3 linked regions of the Homo sapiens genome follow. The protein of the gene in region 3 interacts with the protein of the main gene of each other region in a pairwise test. Each region holds a gene or a part of one and is shown on either strand. Other genes may lie near its edges.

Region 1 (7,127 bases), on a different chromosome or scaffold from region 3:
CTTTTTCAACTTGAAGGAAATAAAAGAAAACATTTCAGTATGGAGCCCTTTCTTTAACAAAAGGGGAAAGTCGCTGTCTAACAGAGTATCAACAACAAAAAGTCAAAATGGAGAAAAAGTGAAAACTTGAATAAAGTAAGTTCATTCATTTCTAGTATTTCTATTTCTAAAGAACTTAAAATGCATCCTCAAATAAACTTTTATCAAGCACAAACAAAGTAATTAGCATTAAAAGAATTAGCAGTGAATGTTTCAACTGTACGCAAGTGTCCCCAAATCCCACAACGTAAAACAACACAAATATCTATCAAATGATGAATCAATGAACAAAATGTGGTATGTCCACATAATAGAATATTATTCACTAATAAAAAGGAATGATGTAGTGATATGTGCTAGAACACGGATGAACCTTGAACACATTAGCTAAGTGAAAGAAGCCCATCTCAAAAAGCTGCATATTGTGTAATTCCATTTCTATGAAATGTCCAGAGTAGGCAAATCCATAGAGATAGACAGCAGATTTGTGGTTATGAGGGGCTGGGGGAAGGGGAAAATGAGGAGAGACTGCTATGGGTACATGGGTACAGGGTTTCTTTTGGGGTTGATGATAACGTCCAGGGATTAAAAGGTGGTTATTGTTGCATAATTCTATAAAAATACTAAAAACCATTGAATTGTGTATTTTAAAAGAGTGAATTTTATGGTATATAAATTATGTCTCAATAAAACTATTATTTTAGAAAAAAAGTGCATGACACATAATTTTCATTTCCCAAGGAACACATTTGAATCCCATGCGCTAGAAGCTGCCATCTGGGAGTGGGTCGGGTGGTTAGTGAGTGAATCTGGCTAAATGACCAGCAGCCACATCTCAGAACAGTGTCACTGTTCTCTACTCATTGAAGTTTACCCAAGGACTCTCATGAAATAATACAAACTTTTGTTTCTCTGGAAGAAAGATAGATGGCAACCAATAAAAGAGGATCCTTTTTTTTTTTTTTTTAATTAAGAAATAGAGTCTCACTCTGTCTCCAAGGCCGAAATGCAATGACTCACTGCAGCTTCTACCTCTGAGGCTGAAGTGATTCCCCCACATCAGCCTCTTGAGTACCTGGGACTCAGAGGAGTGCACAACCATGGCTGACTAGCTAAGAAAATATATATATTTTCTAGAGATGGGGTCTCATTATGCTGCCCAGGCTGGTCTCAAACTCCTGGGGTCAAGCAGTGCTCTCACTTCAGCCTCCCAAAGTGCTGGGATTACAGGCATGAGCCACCACACCCAGCAGAGAATTCTTTGAAAGGGGCTTACTTGTGGTGTAAGAATCTGCATAGCAGCCCATGTGCGATGGCTCACGCCTGTAATCCCAGCACTTTGGGAGGCCAAGGCAGGCGGATCACCTGAGGTCAGGAGTTCAAGACCAGCCTGGCCAACATGGTGAAACCCTGTCTTACTAAAAATAGAAAAATTAGCCAGGCGTGGTGGCGGGTGCCTGTAATCCCAGCTACTCAGGAGGCTGAGGCAGGAGAATCGCTTGAACCTGGGAGTCAGAGGTTGCAGTGAGCTGAGATCATACCACTGCACTCCAGCTTGGGGGACAAGAGTGAAACTCCATCTTAAAAAAATAAAAATAAAAAGAATTTGCACAGTAAACCTAGATCTAGACAAAGCTAGAAGCCTGCACAAGTATTTGAGGATTTAGGGATTCATAGAGCTATCCCTAAAGAATTCTGGGGGTCTAGTACACCAAAAGCAGGAGGGTATGGATAGTGGTATAGAAAGCAAAATATCTCTAAAAATTCATTTGAAAGTAATTCAGTATACAGTATAAGAAGTAAACAAAAGAAAACCAAATGAATTAAATAAAACAGATTTTCTGAGAACGTACCTTAAGGTCCTTCCAAGCCTCGGATTTTATATAGTTAAACATACGTCACTACAAACTTTCAACTCAGGGAGCCCAACCACAGCAACACAATTGAGCCTTACAATTAAAGTCAGATACAATTACAGTTCAGGGAATTCTCATTCCCTTTTGCCCTTGGGACTTAATGGCTTGTTCAGCTTGTTCAAGATCACTAAGCCATCCTAGACCAGCCTTAAAGGCTTTGACTTCTAAACCCATCATTCTGAATGCCTCCCTCCACAAGATCAATGCCTTACATACCTTCTGGAATTTGATTAGAAACAAAAGAATTATTTGGAATCACTGTTTTATGACAGGCAGGATTATTTATTCTGGTCCTAGAGGGTACTGGCAGAAAGTTCACAGGAGGGTCACTATACTTGTGGTGGGTATTCGTTAGTAACTTGACTATTTCCGACTCTTCCTCTAAAAGGGTTATCAAAGAATATACGACAGGTTCCGAAGTTTCCGCAAATGTCAAGGCCTTGTCATAAAGAAACTCAGAAATATGTAAACGACAAGCCAGAGGTAGGTTCTCATTGGTGGAATAAAATGCCACGAGCGGAGCTTGGTAGGGATATTTGTGGTCTTTAGAAAATCGAATTTCAAGTTCATATAAAAAAGATGCATCTTCAATAGCATTAAGATGAGAATCATCTACACTTCTTTCTATTCTTCCAACAATTTGATTTGGGGGCACTTCATGTTTGAATCTGCATTTTGATCCAAATTTACAATTTCCTTTGAGGTAAAATTTACAGATTTCAAGTGAATTCTCTTGTACATTTTTGGTACTTTCTTTTGGCTTGGATTTGCGGAATCTACTTGTCAGATACTCCAGTTCTAACCCAATGGTCCAGACTCTGTTCTGAATTCTTTCTATAAATTTTTCTCCACAGATGGACTTGAGAGCAAATGCCTCTTCCTGTCGCTGTTCCATACACTCATCCAAGCTTATCTGGTTGACTGCCTCAGAGATCTTCATCCTCTCTCCAAATGTCTCTGAAAAACACTGGGTAAGGAGATGCTCTAGTGATGCTCCCACATCTCCATCACACATCCTCAGGACCGCTTGACAGCGTTCAGTATTGAAACCATACCTGTCAAGGGCAAAACATGACAAAAATGACACATAAAAAGCAGTATCACACCATTACAGTAAAATTCATTTAAATATGCTTAGATGAAGTTATGACTACACATAGGCAGGGCTTGTATTTTGAAAAAGCATCCCTGATAACAATAAGCCCCCCTGAATGACCCCTTCTGATAAGATAGAATATTAGGCCTATCAGGCATTGCTGGAACCCACATAATAGGAAAGTACACAAAGAGGGGTAGTGGGTTTATATGATTTCGGTTTCCTTGAATTCTTTCCCAACTCCCATAAATGATCAAAGCAATCACCTGGAAAGTTTTTGCACTGCAAATGGGGAGACTGTAAATTCTGGAACATAAGGCTCCACTGAGGCTAAGCCAGCATATTCCAAAGGATCCAAGTCGGGAACGAGGGAAGGTTCCTGTCCAGCTGGCCAGTACCGCTCATCGTTACAGCAATCAGGCTCATCATCTTCCTCCTCCCCAGAAAGGCCTCTTCTAGCAAAGGCAACATTTTCATATATTAGATATTACTTTCTACTTACTTCAAAGAAAAATTTAGCAAAGGTCTAAGAATTTAATTCATAGGATCCTGACTACTCTTCAGTTGCTGATTTAATCTTATATTGAACTATTAATTTATATCTTGGCAATTAACATTTACCAGGCATTTATTAAATACCAGTTACTGTGTTAAGTGCTTTATATGAACTAACTCCTTTAATCTTCCCAATAACTGTACCAAATACTACTGGAATGTCCTTTTTTTTTTTTTTTTCTAGATGATCAACTAAAACTCAGAGAGGATTAGTAACTGCCTAGGTTACACATTAAGGAGCAAATAGAGATTTTGCCAAAGGCAGACAGATTCCTGTGTTCTTAACCACAGAAACCTTGGCTATTCTCTCTCTTCTCATTCATAAAAACACTATCCCTAATTGTTTGTTTTGCTACATAATCTCCCTTTCTAAATCTAAAACAGATAAGAGATTTGTAGATAGGATGGAAAATGAGCTGTTCATGACTGGCCACTAATTAATTTTGGTAAATGGAAAGAAGGAATTAACTTCTCCAACTGAAATCCAAAGCAAAAGAGCCGAAATGCAGTAGAGTGGGAAACGAATAAGATTTAAGAGTAAAAGCTTTCTCTTAGGCAGACAGTCATGACAAGCAAATCCTAAGACTGCACCTGACCGAGTCAATATTTGCTCATTCAACACTACTTCTACTTGTTCATTACAAGGGTTTATCTGGAAGGTTACAGATAAATCAGTTACTGAATCCATATGAGCACTGCCCTGGAAAAAAATAAAGATAAAAAGGCAATCCCATGGATGTTGCAAAACAAACTCACTCTAAAATTGTGGCTGAATAATTATTCTTGTATTACTCTTGGCTCACTTTCAACTAATTAAATGGCCACAATAGAATCAGTACTGACACAGCATTCCAAAGATGCACAGGACCTTCACACTGCCAGTATGTTTTCCTTAATATAATAATTGACTCAAATAAAACAATTTACTCAGATCCAGCATCAGCATCTTGTTCTTGCAGGTCTCGGAGAAGAGCTTTCACTTTCTCTTGATTCTCAGAAGTCATATGTAGAGTCTGAAGGGGTACTTTGGCTTTGGGTTTCCATTTTGGGCGTGACTCTCCTTTGCTTATGTTACTGTTGCTAGGTCTATAGAGAACAAAAGAGCAAAATTACACACATATCTTCAATCAGAACTTTTACACTCTCCTCAGGGGTCCCCAGATATACACAATACAAACTGGATTGTCAAGTATCTTACAAAAGATGACAATGAATGTGAGGAGATTCTCCATTTTCTATAGTATTTACCAGACTTCATTATATCAGACCTGCTGGAAAAAAACCTTATCAGATTCTTGGCCAGGCGCAGTGGCTCACGCCTGTAATCCTGGCACTTTGGGAGGCCGAGGCTGGCGGATCACCTGAGGTCAGGAGTTTCAGACCAGCCTGGCCAACATGGTGAAATGCTGTCTCTACTAAAAATACAAAAATTATCTGGGCGTGGCAGTGCGCTCCTGTAATCCTAGCTACTCAGGAGGCTGAGGCAGGAGAATCACTTGAACTTGGAGGTAGAGGTTGCAGTAAGCCAAGATTGTGCCACTGCACTACAGCCTGGGCAACAGAGCGAGATTCCGTTTAAAAAAAAAAAAAACAACAAAACTTAACAGATTCTTAATCATTAATTCTGGCTTCACTAACTCAAGAATCCTTAGGAAAAAGCAATGCTAATGATGGTTTCCTCTGCACTATAGGACATGAAGAGCATTTCATTTCATTCTGCATTAAAATCTGAAAACCACTGAGTTTCATTCTTCCTTGTGAATATTAAGGCCCCATTTCTAAAATACCCAATTATCTTTATTTCTGATTATTAAAAAAAAAAAAAAAAAGGCCAGGGGCATTGGCTCACACCTGTAATTCCAGCACTTTAAGAGGCTGAAGTGGTAGGATTGCTTAAGCCCCAGGAGTTCGAGACCAGCCTGGGCAATATAGCAAGATCCTGTCTCTATTTAAAAAAAAAGAAATAAAAAAATTACACAGCATATATAATCTCTTATGATTTGTCTGATCATTAGGAAATGATCAGTTAAACATGAGGGGGAGTTGGGAGTTTCACATGCTCCTATCTTAAAGTCATCCTTTATCTTAAAGTCAGCCTTTCTATTTGTAAACTATATGCCAATCTCTTTAATCTCCTCAAGGAAATCATTCCAGCACTTATCCCCCTTTCTAAATCACTGGTTTTTCATTCTTCTTTGGATCATTCCCATCAGCATACAGACATACTATAAGGTCTACCCTCTTAAAAAAATGAAACCAAGCCAAATCCTCCCTTGAGTGCACATCTCCCTGTAGCTACTGACCCATCTCTCCTCCCTCTAGCTCCCTTATAGTAAAACTTCTCATTTAGGTTATCAAAATCATTGTCTCTGTCTCCATTTTCTTTCCTCTTCTCTCTGAAACACAACCCAATCAGTATTTCCTATGCTACTACAGCTCTTGTCAAGGTTAACCATGATACCCACATTGTCAAATGCAGTGGACAATTCTTAGTGCACATTTTCCTTGACCTACCAGAAGCATTTTTCCACAAATGTGTACCCTCTTTAAGCATACAATTCGATCTTATTGGCTACTCTCCTTTAAAACACCTTTGTCCCTTGGCTTCCAAAAACCACTCTCTTAGTTTCCTACTTCATTGGCAGCTCCTTCTCAATCCCCTTTGTTTTTCATACTTTCTCTTAGCTTTATTTATTTTTTAACTAAAAATTTTTATTGACACATAATAATTGTACATTCTTTATACGGTTGATAATGGTTTGGCTGCAAGTCAAATCTCATCTTCAATTGAAGTTCCCATAATCCCCACATGTTATGGGAGGGAACCGGTTGGAGGTAGTTGAATCATGGGGGCAGTCTCCCCCATGCTATTCTCGTGATAGTGAGTAACTTCTCACGAGATCTGATGGTTTTATAAGGGGTGTCCCCCTTTACTTGGCTCTCATTCTTCTTTCTCCTGCCACCTTGTGAAGAAGGATGCTTTTGCTTCCCCTTTCAGCATGATTGTAAGTTTCCTGAGGCCACCCCAGCCCTGTGGTACTGTGAGTCAATTAAACCTCTTTCCTTTATAAATTACTCAGTCTTGGGTATGTCCTTATAGCAGCGTGAGAATGGACTAATACAGGGGTACATGTGCTATTTTGATACATGCATACAATGTGTAGTGATCAAATCAGGGTAATTAGGATATCTAACACCTCACACATTTATCATTTCTTTGTGTTGGGAACATTCCAAATTCTCTTAGCTTTAAAACCTAGAGTGTCCCAGGGCTCAAACATCAGATACCTTCTCTATTCGATTTTATCCAGACTCAGAACTTTAGCATTTATCTATAGAAGACTCACACATTTACATCTCCAGCCTAGATCTTTTTCTTGAACCTCAGATTTATATATTAAATTATCTATTTTATATCTACACTTGGAGAACATCTCCTAACTGGTCTCCTTGCTTTCAACTCATGCCCCTTTATAGTTTATTCTCTACAAAGCACACCCAGTCAATGCTATTGAGTATAG
Region 2 (3,140 bases), on a different chromosome or scaffold from region 3:
GTAAGTCCCTCCCCCAGATCCTCACCCGAGGTTTAATGTGCATTATAGGAAAAGGACAGTTAAGAAATCCTTCCATAAATTTGAATAATTAGGCCAATTTGGATAATTCAGCCTTTAAAAAAAACAATTATTTCCATCAGTAATTTATTGGTGGGGGGGTGTGGCTCTCCATTATCAATATTATTCTCCAGTTTGGTTTACTGAGGAGGTTCAAGAAGCCAGCATCAGAAATAAATATAAAATGCATAGGGTGTCAGATCATTTTATTTTGCCAAGTTTTAAAAATTTACACTAACAAGTAATTAGCACACTCAGGGCACAAAAATCTTATGTTTTTTGGTTTTTTTGCAATACCTGTATAGAAATCATCTACAGCACATGTTTCTCCCGATTATATACTTCTCTTCCATCTGCCTTTTTTTTTTTTTTTCAATGCTCAGGAGAGAAAGGAGAGTTTATTTCACACAGGTTTTCATTAAAAAGGTGAGGTCAGATCACCTGGAGGTTATTCACTAGCGCTCTACCCCAAATCATTCTTCTAGGAAAAATAAGCCCCAAACATCATATTATTGTAGACTAGTCTGTTTTTATTTACAATTTAAGATATAAATTAGTAAAGAATTCGTGTTAAACAACCAACAAAGATTGTATAACCAGCAATGTTCAAATAAAAACCAGGCAGAATTTATTTACAAAAAGTTTAGATTCCATTGCAATACAACTTGCATAAATTACTAGAAGCTTTATATCATTATAAAAATAAATATCAAATTTGTTTCCACTTCTGAAGTACTCAAGTTCTTCCATCACGTTTTATTTCTACTGTGTACATCTTTTACAAATAAACTTTACAGTAAATCCTATCACACCTATAGAATATATACCGTGGCAATGAAGTGATCAATTCAAGATATCCTGAGAAAAACAGATTGTTTTCAAAAGTCACACATACATCGGGGAAACTATACTATGCCAACAAATTCACATATGTCCAACAATAGTCTGTTCCAATTGTTAGAGTCTGTGGGCTGACAGTGCTGTGTGGATCCTTCTCTTTTACAGTGGCACAAGATGTGGTCTGGATTTAGACATCTGTTTGTTGTATCTGTAAATTTATGAGCTTGGGAAGAGAGAATGGCCTGCTGACTTTTTTTTTTTTTTTTTTTTCAAAGCAATTGTGACACCTACCTGTGGACCAAGGAAAAAACCAAATCATCCCCAATCTTTCAGTTCCACAACAACACCATTATAAAAACGAGTTGATCTGAAGTGGTTCCAAATCTTTCTTATCTTCAAGATCTATGATTAGTAATTCTGACTCGTTGCAAAGCAACATATTTTTTGAGATACTGTTGTGAGCCCCGGGAGAATGTCAGAGTCCTGTCCACTTGGACATGGGTGGAGGGGAGGTTGGACAGGGCTGATAAAAGACTAGTACGCCTCGTGTCTCTTCAGTCTTATTTTGCAAACATCATCTATAAAGGTTTTTGCTACTCCAAGTTTTGGTAGCCCAAGCTCATCAAAGCATGTGTCTATTATGTGTCTAGCATAGTAAAAATGGCTCTAAATTGCATATAAATGCCCAGATTTTAATAATCTATTGTTTCAAAAGAAAACAACAGTAGTGTGTAATATATATATACACATGTACTATATATATACATGTACTATATATATACATATATATATTACACACACACACACACACATATATATATATATTTTTTTTTTCCTTCCCTAGGTAAAGGAGTGATAGAACTTGTGCCAAAAAGAGGGAATCTATAAAACAGAAAATATAGTTTCCCCCTTAAGGAAAGAAAAGCTGGACAAGATTGAAATGCTCTGTCTTCTAACCCCATGACCAGAAGCAAGAAAAACACATTAAGCAAGTTGGTGCTGGGAGGCTCCACAGGGTCTGGGAAGCACCAGGGTGCCCACTTACTTGCATTGCTGTGCTCGGCCCTTCTATAGGTAGGGCTGGACGCCCCCGCCAACCACGGTGCAGCCCTCGCTGGCATCTGTCAGGGGAGTGGGCAGTTAGTCAGAACCGACCCCACAGCCTGCTGGCTGCGCAGACCACCGTGCACCCACCATCCTCCACTCCCAGGCAAACAGCAGTTTGGGAAACCGACTGTCTCCAGGGCCGCTATCTGAGACGACTTTTGGTGATGGTCCCTAGTTCTTAACTTCCCCCCTTGAACTCCTCTTTCGGGTAGCCTGACTTAGGAGCAACACAGGCAACATAGCACAGGGGAAAAAACGGTTTTCTTTCCGAACAACGACAACAACAAAAAGCGGAAAAAACATTTGATTTTATCTTTTGAAGACAAAACGCCTCTGAGAGTAACTGGAACGTTCTGTTTGCCTCTAGCCAACGGCAGAAAAGCGGATTCAACTCTGACTCCTTAACAAGACACCGAAACACACCCAGGCTCATTAGGGCGACACGCTGTAATTTGAATTTCGTGGCAATCTGGGTTTGCCGAAACTAAGACAGCCACGATAGTAATAGTCAAAATAACAGTAAATTAAGTAAAAATAAATAATAACAGGGCAAGTCTAAAAAGAGGGCCACACCTTCTTTGGCTTCCATCTCGCCCTCCGCCCTCACTCTGCTAATTCTGGGTCCCAGGAGTGGCCCCCTGGATCTTCTTCCCGGACCCTCCCTCGGGTCTCCCGGGCGCTCCGCCTCCCCGGGGCTGGCTCTCCCTCCCCTCCCGGGCGCCGCCGGCCGCGGGCCGCCTACCTTTCTTGGGCTCGTAGCCGCCGCCCGGGGACCGGTAGTGGGACTCGAGCGGGTGCGCGCCCGCCTTGCCCGCGTCGCTGGCCGCCTTTGGCGCGGTGTGCAGGGCCTCGCCGGGGGCCGCGGCCGCAGAGTTGTACCGCAGGAGACCCTGGCCCTGCAGCGCCGCGTTCAAGTTCCCGTAGTTTGTGTAGTTGCCGTAGAAGGGCGACGTGTAGTAGAGGGGGCGGCCCAGCAGCGGCGAGGCAGGGTAGGGCGAGCCTCCTGGCGGTGCCCCGGTTGAGGCCGGCGCGGCGGCCGCGGGCAGCCCCGGTGGCCCGCAGCCCGGGCCCAGGCTCGGCTGCTTGAGGTCCGACGTGGCGATCTCGGCCAGCGACCACAGCTTGGGCTTGCTGGC
Region 3 (7,127 bases):
CGGTGAAACATCTTATCACAGTACATACACTGGTGGGGTTTCTGGGCTGAGTGGGTGGCCATGTGCCTGGGGGTAGAGACAGGGGATAGGGGAGAAAGCAGAAAGAGGGGAGATCACAAGGGATGACTGGACAACCAAAGGTGTCCATTAACAGGAAACTAGATATAAAAACCATGGTAAAGGCTTGCAATGCAATACCAAACCAGTTATATTCTACAGATATCCTTGCCTATCTGCAAAATAATGTGTACCGACATTCTTTGCAGCATTGCTTGTAGTAGCAAAAAAAATCAGAAACAATCTGAACGTCCAATCTATCAATAGGGAACTGGTTACATAAATTATGATAAGTCCATAAAATGACTCAACTTTTCAAAAATGAGGCTTTTTGTGTACTTACAGGGAACATGCTCCTAAGAGACAGGAAGTAGAAAAAAAGCAAGGAGGCAGAATAGTGGATGTAGACTAGGACTCTATGTGAAAAGGGGAAAAATATATGTATGTTTGCTTGTATATGGCTAAAATATTTCTGGAAGGACATACAAGAAACTGATACCAGTGGCTGCCTATGCGAAAAAGAACCGAACAGCTTATAGATGGGTGTCATGGAGAATTTTCATCGTATAAGTTTTGGTACTTTTTGAATTTTGAATTACGTGAAAGTATTTCATTTTTTAAACATTACATTTAAATAATTTTAAATGATACAATAAAGAGAAAATAAAATATACCTAAACGTGCAGTCTGGGCACAGTGGTGCATGCCTGTAATCACAGCACTATGGGAGGGTGAGGCAGGAGGATCATTTGAGCCCAGGAGTTTCAGACCAACCTGAACAACATAGCGAGACCTTGTCTCTACAAAATCTTAACCATTAGATGGGCATGGCAGCATGCACCTGTAGTCCTAGCTACTCAAGAGGCTAAGGCAGGATTACTTGAGCCCAGGAATTTGAAGTTGCAGTGAGCTGTGATCGCACCACTGCACTCCATCCTGGGTGACAGAGCAAGACTCCGTCTCTAAATAAATAAATAAACTTCCTTATCTAGAACAAATTTCCAAGATATACAGGGCTAAGTCAAAAAAGGAAGTTCAATACAGTACATGTGATACAATCTGTTTTGAAAATAAAAAAGAAAGAGAATATACATGTTTGAATGTCTTAGGAAGGATACACAAAAACCAACCCACCAGCTGCCTTTGGGGAGAGGAATAGTGACTTCGAGTGTGAGGATCATTCATTCTTCACTGCATGCCAGTATGTACCACTTGAATTGCTTGTCATATAAACCAGTAACACTTTAAGAAATGTTTTAATGGTATGGCACTTCAGTGTCCCTTGGTTTACCTGATCCTATATGGTTGAAAAGTGGCTCAGAATCCAGGAACTGCAATTCACAGCTCCAGAGCATATTCAGAATCAACTCAGCACCCACTGTTTGCCAGGCTCTGCATAAGCTGTGTCATTAACCTTGATCTCCAGACAAGGAAAGGAGTCTAAAAAAAAGGCAGCCCCCTCACCCTAGCAGAGGCTGAATTTAAACAGGCCTTCGGAAGACCTATGTTCAGTCAGGTATGCAACAGCTGTCTCTCTCTCGTACAGCACTCTGTGATCCTTTCTACCTGGAGGGTATCAAACACACCCCCTGCCCACATCCCACATATGCATGCTCAAGAGTGCTCGTGCCTATGTGGGTTACTGTCAACCTCCTGTGATGGAACTGACGTGGTAATGTAGAGAGGGAGGTGCTGAGTGATCCACTTTTCATTTCCCTCATTTTGCAGGTGAGGAAACTGAGGCCCAAAGAGGTCTAGCAACTCACCTAAGATCACACAGTAAATTATATGTGATGAGTCAGGGCTCCTGCCTCCTGACCCAGGACCTTTCCTGCAGCCGCCCACTGGCAACCAGATCATCATTAAGAAAGTCTAAGAAGGCCGGGTGCAGTGGCTCATGCCAGTAATCCCAATACTTTGGGAGGCTAAGGTGGAGGGACTGCTTGAGGCCAGGAATTTGAGATCACCCTGCACAACACAGGGAAGAGATCCTGTCTCTAGGAAACATGCAAAAATTAGCGGGTGTGGTGGTGGTACATGCCTGTGATCCTAGCTACTCAGGAGGCTGAGGCAGGAGGATCACTTGAGCCCAGGAGTTTGAGGCTGCAGTTAGTTATAATCACGCCACTATACTCCAGCTTGGGCAAAAGTGAGACCCTGTCTCAAAAAAAAAAGAAAAAAAAGAAAGCCTAAGAGTATGGCCTTGACTGGAGTTCCCTTAACTTATAGGAGCACACAGAGAATCTAAGCACTCCTGAGGACCACAGAATTGTCAAGAGGGCAATCCTGACTACCATGCTACCCTGTTGCCTATTTTAGTCCCTTCCTATTAACTGTTTTCCAGATGAGGAACTGAGGCTTTGTGGTCATCTTGTTCATGTATTTACTTGTTTACTGTCTGTACCCACTATTAAGACCATAAACCCAAGGAGGACCAGCACCCCCATCTGTCTGGCTCACTACTCCGCCCCTTGCACCGAGCACTGTGCCTGGTACAGAGCAAGAGCTCAATAATGTTGGATAGATGAATGGATGGTTGGATGACTGTGCATCAGGCCAATCTATCTCATTTCTTTTTTTTTGAGACGGAGTCTCGCTCTGTCGCCCAGGCTGGAGTGCAGTGGTGTGATCTCGGCTCACTGCAAGCTCTGCCTCCTGGGTTCACACCATTCTCCTGCCTCAGCCTCCCGGTAGCTGGGACTACAGGCGCCTGCCACCGCGCCCAGCTAATTTTTTTTGTATTTTTAGTAGAGACGGGGTTTCACCGTGGTCTCGATCTCCTGACCTCGTGATCCGCCTGCCTTGGCCTCCCAAAGTGCTGGGATTACAGGCGTGAGCCACCGCACCCGGCTGATCTATCTCATTTCTAAAGGGCAAGTTCATGGTTCCTCTAATGCGAAAAGGATAAAATCAAAATTGCTCTTTTTTGTTTTTTTTGAGACAGTCTTGCTCTGTCACCCAGGCTGGAGTACAGTGGCACAATCTCAGTTCACTGCAACCTCCTTCTCCTGGGTTCAAGTGATTCTCCTGCCACAGAGTCCCAAGTAGCTGGGACTACAGGCATGTGCCACCACACCCAGCTAATTTTTAAAAAATTTTTAGTAGAGATGGGGTTTCACCATGTTGGCCAGGCTTGCCTCAAACTCCTGGCCTCAAGTGATCCGCCCGCCTCAGCCTCCCAAAGTGCTGGGATTACAAGTGCGAGCCACCACGCCTGGCCCAAAATTGCTTTTGACCATGCCTCCCCATCCTCACCAAAGCAACCAAAGCTGCTCTTCTCTATCTGCCTTATGTCAGGGCTTTTACGTTTAATTTCACTTTAAGTAGGGGTTCTTGGGCTTACAAGTTTCAGAAAAGCAGCTGCCCCAGTGGGCAACAGGGAGACAGACATAGTTAAATGAGTAAGTAGCAGGCTGATTCAGTAGAAGAGGCACTGCAGGACCTCTGAAGCTGTGTGACCTTGGGTAAGTTATGTCCCTACTCTGAACCTCTACTTTAAAATTTACAGACTGGGCCAGAAGGTCTACTTTTCCTTCTAAAGTTCGAATACTGATTCCTAACTTCTAGCTAAAATTCTGACCATCACCTGACAAAGGTGAGGAAAGCAATATTTAAAAAAAAATGTTCAGGGCTAAGTGCGGTGGCTCATGCCTGTAATCTCACTGCTTTGGGAAGCCAAGGCAGGAGGATCACTTGAGCCCAGGAGTTTGAAACCAGCCTGGGGAACACAGCCACACCCCCATATCTACAAAAAATTAAAAACAACCAGGTGCGGTGGTTCAAGCCTGTAATCCTAGTTACCTGGGAGAATGAGTCAAGAGAATCACTTGAGCCCAGGAATTGGAGGCTGCAGTGAGCTGATTGCACCACTGTACTCTAGCCTGGATGACAGAGCAAGACTCCCATTTCTTAAAAAAACAAACAAACAAACAAACAAAACTCAAGGCTGCCTGACATTGGCACCCAGATCGTCACTAAGAAGGTGTAAGAAGGCCAGGTGCAGTGGCTCACGCCAGCAATCCCAATACTTTGGGGAGGCAACCCATCAGATTCTAGTGTCTGAATCAAGCAATCTGAATCATTTTTTAGTGAGTGACTTCAACTGTTTGGCATTCAGGGTATACTTGTAGGACAAATTAACCTCCACTCTTCTGCCACAGATTAAAAACCCACACTAGGCAGAGTCTCTCTGCTTTTTCCCTCTGGGAACCTCAGGGCAGGAAGAGATATGAGAGTGTCACCTACCTATACAGCTTGTATTTGGAAGCAAAAGCCTTGCCACAGTGCAGCTGAGGGCAGCTATATGGTCTCTGCTCTGGTTGCGGGAGGCTGTGAGGCCTCAGCTTCTCCCCATTTGAGAAAGGTGTTCCCGAAATTTCACATTGGCACTTCACTTGACTCTCCGCCTCCCGGCCCCGAGGCCTGGGAACTAGTTTCCAGCCCACTTCCTCCTCCTGCTTTGCATCTTGAATCCAGGGGGGGACGCTGGTGAAAAATGTGGTCATGGCAAGGCTAATGGCAAAGGGCCATGTTATTGAGAAAGCCTCCCCATCCGCTCCACACAGGCTCTCAGCTCTGTCACAGCCTCCAACGCAGCTTTCAGAAAACAATCTCTTCACCTGAAACATCAGAACACCTGGTGTTAGGGAGCCCAATACCATGAGAACATGGGCTCTGGAAGCAGACAGATCCCGTTCCAATCCCAGCCCTTCCACTTAGAAGCTGTGTGACTTTCAGCCAATTACTTACTTCCCTGAGCTGTTTCCTCATTTATAAAATGGGCATAATAATCTCCTAAATTATAAAAATGTTTTGAGGATTAAATGAGATCATGAATATAAAGCATTCAGCAGAAGGCTGGGCATCCATTAAGTGCTTAGTGGTAGCTACTATTACTAGTACCATCTAGGCTAATAAGAAACAAGATAAACTGAGGAACCAAAAGCCCCAAAACTTCAAACTTTTTCTTCTGGACCTCACTTTTATATCCTTTCCATTGAACCTAGAGATAGCGGTTCCTCCTTCTTATTACCCTGGCACCTCCTCGTCCACTACTTTCCACAATTGTCCTCCTCATGGAGGTGCTAAGGAGCAATAAAATGCCCAAAAGGCAAGAGAGGAGGAAGGGGAAGCCTCTACTTAGGAAATTTACATCCTAGTCAGTCCTGGTACCAGATGTGTTTCTTAGCAGTGCATCAACATCAGGAGGGTCTATATGGGAAGGCAACAGCAGATTCTTAGCATTTTCCCTAAACCAGGACTAGAACTGGTCCCATCCTGACCACCACCACTTCTCTGGGTCACTGTGTCTCAGGGCCCAGACCATCCCTCTTTAGCAAAGCCTGTCCAACACCCCTAGGTGCTGAGAGGCCCCTCCTACAGGGCCTCAGAGTACATATGCACATCTCCTTTAGAAGACGGTAGCGAGCTCGCATTGGAATTTACTCCTCTCCACCAGCCTGATTGTCTGAGGGCTTGCATCATCTCTCTTTCATCTCTATATACCTAATATCTAGAAAAGGAACCCTAACTTTATTTCAGATAGGTAAACTAGTCACTGAATGCAGGTTGATTCTCAGGGACCAACCTAGGCCCAGGTAGTTCTGGTTTAAACTGGGTTCGCAGCCATTCCCAAGTGGGGAGCCGAAATCTTAAAGTCTGATTCTTTCTCTTGTTGAATAGAAGGGGAGATGTGCAAGAACGACACAACTCCATTCCAGATACTAATCCAGAGGAAGAGGATGGGAGTTACCACACTGACTCTCAAAAGGGGACAAGAGACCCACATTCATACTCCCAAGCTTACCACAGATTACCAACCACGATGCAACCTGCTACAACAGGGGGATTCCCTTTGAAGAGATGGTGCCAAAATTTGATCATGAGGCTTTTCCATGTGAAGAGAGAAAAGGGGGTGTCTGGGGATTATCCACGAGAATCTGGGGAGGGCTCCAACTGCACAAACTAGCTGTGGGCCACAGAATGCTTGCTCAGCTCATTAGCACCTGCTGCTTACAGTGACCATTCATCCAACAGACTGGCCGTGAACAAGATGATGGGATCAGCGGGTTCATGCCCCAGAGAGCTTTGCTCATCATTAACATGAGCTACGTCCTGTTCAGGAACCATTCCTCTTGTTGAAGAAACACTGCGATGTAATATGATAAACACGTCCCCATCACGAGTGTAGATTTGTCTAGAAAGATCTGCATTAAGGTGGCTGCATTTTGCATGAATCACATGCTGGGGAGGGGTAGGTAGCACTAAAAACTAGTCCCACTTGAGCCTTCAAGTCATTATGGCATATGTGCCTGCTTCACTATAAACCTCAAAGGCCTGTGACGTCTGGCTTTCATTGTTTAAGTCCCCTCCTCCTTTGCAAGGGTGGAATTACCTGTTTGTAATACCAGCAATTACTATGCACCTTGGAATTGAGCAGAGAGTGTGCTCGAGTGTGCATGTTTAGATTGGAGGGAATTACCCCTACCTTCAAAGTCAAATTCTACTCCCCCTTCAATTTGAAATCATGCACCTCAGCCTCTGGAAAGTTGGGAATGGCAGCCAGAAGGAAACAAGTCACATCAATTTGGCTGATGTGAGAGAGGAGCCTAGCCCTGGAAACTCCACACAAACTCAGAAAGAGAACATTACGTCCCCACCTCCCACACGTCCACCTCATCTGTTCTCCTGAACAAGCACAAACAAGACACAATAGTTTAGTAGGCTGCTACTGAAAGAGTGAGTAATGGGCTTCTAGGAAAGAGGCTGGTGGTGGCTAAGGAGCTTGTACTGATAGAACCAAAGGAGGAAAGCAGCAGCCATGTGCTCACCTTGATCTGCTTTTAATGGGGCTATGTCTTCACAAAGAAAAGAGCCAACACCCTGATCCTACTCTCCTACACTTTTCAAAAGGCACAGGAAGTCCCTACCTACAGTCACCAGCAGCCTCTTGGATAACCAAAGCTGCTAGTGTTACCTAGGAACCCTTTTGGGGATCTAGTCTCTCTCTGCCCTTTGTCTGAAAACTCCTCTGATCCAGAAAGATTCCTGGGTTTGTCTTACATAAGCAG

The links.
Region 1: the proteins of PLAGL2 (region 3) and DHX57 interact in binary tests that used the Homo sapiens proteins (3 or more experiments, as listed by UniProt).
Region 2: the proteins of PLAGL2 (region 3) and IRX2 interact in binary tests that used the Homo sapiens proteins (3 or more experiments, as listed by UniProt).

What each region holds. Positions count from the first base shown.
Region 1 is NC_000002.12:38,858,828-38,865,954, forward strand, and holds part of DHX57 (putative ATP-dependent RNA helicase DHX57), read right to left. Parts: intron 4,693-7,127; coding exon 4,534-4,692; intron 3,507-4,533; coding exon 3,318-3,506; intron 3,011-3,317; coding exon 2,172-3,010; intron 10-2,171; coding exon 1-9. UniProt on the Homo sapiens protein: Probable ATP-binding RNA helicase.
Region 2 is NC_000005.10:2,745,599-2,748,738, forward strand, and holds the end of IRX2 (iroquois-class homeodomain protein IRX-2), read right to left. Parts: coding exon 2,747-3,140; intron 2,019-2,746; coding exon 1,966-2,018; 3' UTR 567-1,965; downstream 1-566.
Region 3 is NC_000020.11:32,197,617-32,204,743, forward strand, and holds part of PLAGL2 (zinc finger protein PLAGL2), read right to left. Parts: exon of another isoform or gene 5,864-7,127; intron 4,677-5,863; 5' UTR 4,563-4,676; coding exon 4,303-4,562; intron 67-4,302; coding exon 1-66. UniProt on the Homo sapiens protein: Shows weak transcriptional activatory activity.